2 separate regions of the Homo sapiens genome follow, and region 2 is linked to region 1. A link means that fine-mapping ties the variant in region 1 to the expression of a gene that starts in the linked region. Tissue or cell type: whole blood. Region 1 holds a variant in brackets; the other region holds the start of a gene. All regions are shown on one strand. Distances are between the middles of the regions. Region 1 overlaps RBMS1 (RNA binding motif single stranded interacting protein 1). Region 2 holds the start of RBMS1 (RNA binding motif single stranded interacting protein 1).

What was found.
Region 2: it holds the start of RBMS1, and the variant in region 1 is fine-mapped to the expression of RBMS1 in whole blood (TOPMed, PIP above 0.99).

What each region holds. Positions count from the first base shown.
Region 1 is chr2:160,418,652-160,421,562 of GRCh38, reverse strand. All of the region lies in intron 1 of RBMS1 (RNA binding motif single stranded interacting protein 1), which reads left to right. Among named protein-coding and RNA genes, the nearest start is that of MIR4785, 12 kb to the right of the region's middle. The variant C/T (reference allele first, on the strand shown) is at 1,696.
Region 2 is chr2:160,492,348-160,495,258 of GRCh38, reverse strand. RBMS1 (RNA binding motif single stranded interacting protein 1) reads left to right here and starts at 1,452. Exons shown (of 14, transcript NM_016836.4): 1 at 1,452-1,970. The coding sequence starts at 1,896. RefSeq lists a silencer at 1,025-1,204 and an enhancer at 1,391-1,911.

The DNA.
Region 1 (2,911 bases):
CCCAAATGTCCATCAATGATAGACTGGATTGAGAAAATGTGGCACATATATACCATGGAATACTATGCAGCCATAAAAAAGGATGAGTTCATGTCCTTTGTAGGGACTTGGATGAAGCTGGAAACCATCATTCTCAACAAACTATCTCAAGGACAAAAAACCAAACACCGCATGTTCTCACTCATAGGTGGGAATTGAACAATGAGAACACTTGGATACAGGAAGGGGAACATCACACACCGGGGCCTGTCGTGGGGTGGGGGAAGGGGGGAGGGAATAGCATTAGGAGATCTACCTAATGTTAAATGAGGAGTTAATGGGTGCCGCACACTAGCAGGGCACAGGTATATATATGTAACAAACCTGCACGTTGTACACATGTACCCTAGAACTTAAAGTATAATAATAAAAAAAAAAAGAAAAAAGAATAAGTTAGAGTGGATCTCAAGAGCTGTCCTGCTGTACCTTGAAGAGGAAAAGGAAGAGACGGTGCCTCTTGGTGTGGGGAAGACAGAACGGTCAACCATTGGAGTTTCAACAGAAGTTGTGCCATCCGGGGAAAGTAATTCTTGGTTGCTTTAGTCATTCTAAAATACATCGTGGTACCATCTTGGGTTTTAATAAATAAATGCTCACCCAAGATAACAGTGAATCATTTCCAAACCTTCTTACCTCAAGAGGCTATAATTTTTATGTATCTGACAGCAAAACTTGTTTTATAGCAGAGAAAGTTGTAGGGGGTACTGAGGTTAATGCTTATCTTTTCTGGGTTCCTGTAACCATGTTCTGGTTCATTCTTTGTAACAAAAATTTTCAGTAAAGTTGGGAGCATGTGTCCTCATAATTTCTGGCTCAGGATCATGTAGAAGTGAGCCACAGTGACTGAGGGGAATATATCATAATCCTCAGGTGAGCTGGACTGGAAAGGAGGCCGAGAACTACTGACTGACAGTGAAGCCAGGTCAATGGGTACTTGCTGACTGTCGCAGGCTGCATTTCAATAGAGTACGTATGGGGAGTATGTGCTAAATCTTGGCCATCATTGTATCTTCAATAGAGGAGTTTATAATGTAAAGACACTGAGCTGGCCTAATTTAGGCATTAATACCATCCTTAGAAAATGTAGCAAGAGGTCTTGGAAAATAGATGAGAGTAGGAAAAACTCAGAGTGGGTAGACCATGAGGCATGATTTCAACAGAGTAAACGGAGGGATGAGTGTGGTTTGGCTGATGGAAAAACAGAGGCTGTTTCCTGGCAAAGCTCAGAGCTAGAGAAGAGTGAGTTCATGGGCAGCCAAGACACAAATAGTAGCTGGAAATAGAGGTAAAGGGACAAGGGAGTTAGAAAGTGGAGAGCTTTACAAGTGCTGTTCAGAAATTTGCATTTGATGTGGGAGTTTTAGGAAGTAGAGTGATACAGCCAAAGAGGCCAGAAAAAAATTATTTTGGAAGCAGGGTATACAACAATTTGGAGTAAATAAGGACCAGTCAGAGGGAAAAACAGAAGAGTTCCAGCAGTTCAAGCTCGAGAAAACTCCATAAAAGATATGGAGAAAGAGAAGAGAGTCAGTATGAATCACAGATAAGCTGCTAATTTAAAAATCGTGTATTTTCACTGTCAAATGTAGAAATTAGCAGCCTCCTATTTGTTTCATCACTCAGATTTGCAGCATTTCTCAATGGGTTTACTGTAAC[C/T]TTTGTACTATCCAGACTGTAGTCTCATAACTTTTTAAATGTTTGGTTTTTTTCCCATTTTCTTTTTTAGGAGAGATTCATGAGGAAAAGGTAAATGGGCAGATAAAGTAGTTATTTAAAAGAAAACTTATAACCGGCTATGTAGTCACTTCCTAGGTGCTGTAGCACCAAGAATCAGTTTACTTTTGTTGTCTGGGATCCTCTGAATCAACCTCACAAGTCTTTTAATACACTGACATCCACTAAAAATACTTGAATTGCGGACATTTTCAAACATACAATAAGGTGGAAAGAAAAACTTCAGCAATTATCAGCACTTTGTCCATTCTTATTTACTGATATAACCTTTTAAATGTTAAATGATAGAATGAAACGAATGATATGATTTTGAACTACAAGAGTTTATACACCTAGGAGTAGACATGGGACTAAAACAAAATTTTTTTAAAGAGTTTATACACCTACTTTAAAAAATCTGTCAGTCACTAAAAGCTTAAATTATGATTCATTTTTAAAATAAAGGGCCAAACAGGCATAGAAAGGGAGGAAAACAGTTCCTATAGTGATTTGCAATATTTTTTAGCCTGATATATTTAATAATGTTCATAGCAAATAGCTTAAGTGAATTCTAAGACTTCTTAAAAGAGTCCCCCTAAAATAGAATATATTTTAAATCAATCAAGAAATTACAAATTACAGAATTTAGCATGATATTCTTTAATATTGAGGAAGTTTGGCTGGTAAATTAGAATGTAAAATTTATCACTGAATTAACCGTGATTAATTATCTCACCCAAGATAACAGTGACTCATTTACAAACCTTCTTAAGTATTTCTTAAGTATTTGAAAGTCATAAGCTTGTTTTAACTTTATAGAATAATAACATCTGTTTGAATAGGACTTGCATACATTTTTAATATATTGCTTATTCATTCATTCCAACATTCATGAACCAATATTCAAACACTTAATATGTGCCAAGCCCTGTGTTAGAGGCTTGGCTATATCAGTAGTTTGGTATGTTAATAATTCTTATTAGATGACTTTCAAGGTGAGATCAATTATAATTTTCTTTTATAACAAGGGGAACATTACAGATAAATGAAATTAATGGATAATCCCCAAGCCTCAGGTTAATCAACCTGCAGTCAATAAATAAATTGGCTGGTTTGTTTCAGTTTTTCATGTTGGTTTTATCATCACACCAGCAGTTAA
Region 2 (2,911 bases), 74 kb before region 1:
TAGCTTCCTTATAGGCTTTTACATAGGTAAATGAGAGGGACATGATTTGCCTCCTGGCAGAGCCAAAATGTTCTCACCTATACTTATATTTATTTTGTTTTTGTCAAACATGTAAGATCTAGAAATTTGTCTAAACCATAGAACGATTATAAGGGTTTCAGGTCCTTATTTTGTCATTGTTTTAAAGTATCTTACTAAACCTATTTTAAAATGTTATCATATAAAAATAATAACTGTTTAACAAAATAATGCATTCCAGTTGAGTTTAATTTACCTTGTGCTATTAACAAAAGACTCTTCAAAAACCAAAATGACAAAGTAAACAAGGTCTATTTAATAACAAACACAGTTTTTTATTACATTTTATTAGATGTGCCGGAACCCTAATTTGAGGATGCTTGCTTACCTATGCTATCCGTATGTACATTTTGGTATTAGCTCTCTTTTTGAGCTGGAATATAAAAGTCTTCTGCAGGCAGCTTCGGGGACCAATTAATTCCATTAAATTATATCTAGTTATGTAGTGAACTGAACCACTGCTGGTCTGAGGCTGTCTAGAGCTGTGACAATTAGGAGATGGAGAGAGGCAGAAAGAGAGATTGATTTTATATGTCACTGAAGCACACTGCAACAATATGCCAGCGTGACTTTCAAAATGGCCTTAAAATATTCCAAACTCAGGGAGTTTCCTTGCTCCTGAGTGGGAGTTGACAGACTGTCTGGCAGCATTAGAAAGAGGCAGAGAAAAGCTGATGTCTATATTGTGTCCTCTAATAACATTCTGCCTCTTTGCGGCATCCCCCTCTTAGAAGGATCCGTCTATATGTTGTGAGGGGTGTGTGTGTGTGTGTGTGTGTGTGTGTATGTATGTATGTGCTTTGCCTCCCCTTGTGCAAGGGGCATGATTTCACGTCTCACATCTGGGAAAACCAAACCGAAGGACGCTAACCCTCCCAAGGTCACCTAGATTAGTCTTGTGGCCCCGGGTCGGGGGTGGGTGGGAGGAACAGAACCCAGGTGTCCAGACTCCAGCTTTGTTGGGCATTAAATCATTTTCCTTCCCTTGTGAAAAAAAATTACTGGGCGGTGGGAAGTGAACGATTAATCAGATTTCCTCTTTTCCCTTATTTCCCCTCCCCCTTACGAAGATAAAAACTCGGGAAAGCAAAAGAGGTGCCCGCCCTGCAGTTCTTAAGCTGGGTCCCCCCGCATTCCCCCTCCACCCCCACTCCCACTCCCATTTCCCCACCCCCGACACAAAGCGATCTGGACTCACAGGGCTTCCGCCCGTCCAACCGCGAGCCTGGGAGGTGAGGAGTGGTTAAAACTCAGCCCTCACCTCCAGCGGGTCCCGGGCTCGGCGGCGCCCAGGCCCCGCCCCCGCCCGCCCTTCCCCCACGGCCTCGGAACGCCAGCCCCTCTCCTCTCTCCACATCGGGCGCACCCACCCCAGATGCCGCCTGGCACCAAGCGCAGCCGCCGCTGCCGCACTTTCCACTTGTATTGATCACCTCTCAGCCCCGCGCAGCCGGCTCGCCCGAGCGGACCGCGGCCAGCGCGCCAGCCCTTGGCAGCCCCGGAGCAGTCGGGCTCCGGGAGGAAACTCCTTGGGAGCGCCCTGTCCGGGGTGCCCTCTGCGCTCTGCAGTGTCTTTCTTTCTGCCTGGGAGGAGGAGGAGGAGGAGGAAGAGGAGGAGGAGGAGGAGGAGGAGGAGGAAGAGGAGGAGGAGGAGGAGGACGTCTGGTCCCGGCTGGGAGGTGGAGCAGCGGCAGCAGCAGCAGCCGCCGCCGCCGCCGCCGCTGCCGCCGCCGCCGGAAAGGGAGAGGCAGGAGAGCCCGAGACTTGGAAACCCCAAAGTGTCCGCGACCCTGCACGGCAGGCTCCCTTCCAGCTTCATGGGCAAAGTGTGGAAACAGCAGATGTACCCTCAGTACGCCACCTACTATTACCCCCAGTATCTGCAAGCCAAGGTAAAGGGGCGCCGGGGAGAGGTGACGGCCGGAGGAGGGGGCCCGGGGACGCGCGCAGGGTCAGGCCTGGGGAGGGGGGCGCGCGGCGAACCCCCGCCACCGCCGGGCGGAGTTGCTGGAAGGTTGCTAACTATAGCGCTGGCCTGGGCAGAGCCGGGCGGCGCGCGGGGCGGCGGCTTCCCTGGGAGCGGAGTGCGGGGATCGGGTTACAGAAAGCCGCGGGGGGAGAGACTAGACAGGAAAGAGCCACCAGCCCCTTCCTGGCCCGGCCAGCGGGGAGGGTCGTGGGGTCGAGCGGCGCCCCTCGCCGAGCCCTGGCTGGCCGGCGGCCGTCGCCTGGTGTGCGCGTCTGGATCCGCTGGTGGCCCGGCTTTTCGACCCCTTCTCCAAGGGCCTCGCCCTGTAAGCTGTAACTCTTCGCTCCCCTCGCCGTGGCGCGGAGCCTCCCGCCCCCCAGGGACGCCCCTCCACCTCCCGCGCACGCGATGACTGGGGCTGGAGGGGCGGCGGGGCCGGGATATTTTCCTCCCCGCCTCCGGCCCTGAGCGCCCGCCCCTCGCCTCTGATCTTTGTGCGGTGTGGCACTTCACCTGGTTACTGATTTCTACTTTTACGCTGGTGTTTTGGGTAGAAAAGTGGCCAAAGTTCACTCGCGTTCATTGATGTCCCTTCTAATCTCTAGAGGTTTTGCAAAGGAGGGACAATGGGCAGATTTCAGTGCAGAGAAAGAAGTGACTTCGTATTTGGTTAAAAAAGAAACAAAAACAAAACTAGCTTATATGTTTGCCACAGATCGATTTCCAATGTTGCTTTTTAAAAAGTGACCTCGGCACACTCTTGGGTAACAACAGTTGATGACATGTAGCCATACAAATTGCGCCTGGCTTTCTAGGGACCCTGGGTACTTTGTTAGTGGGCCTATCTTATTTTTACAATAAGAA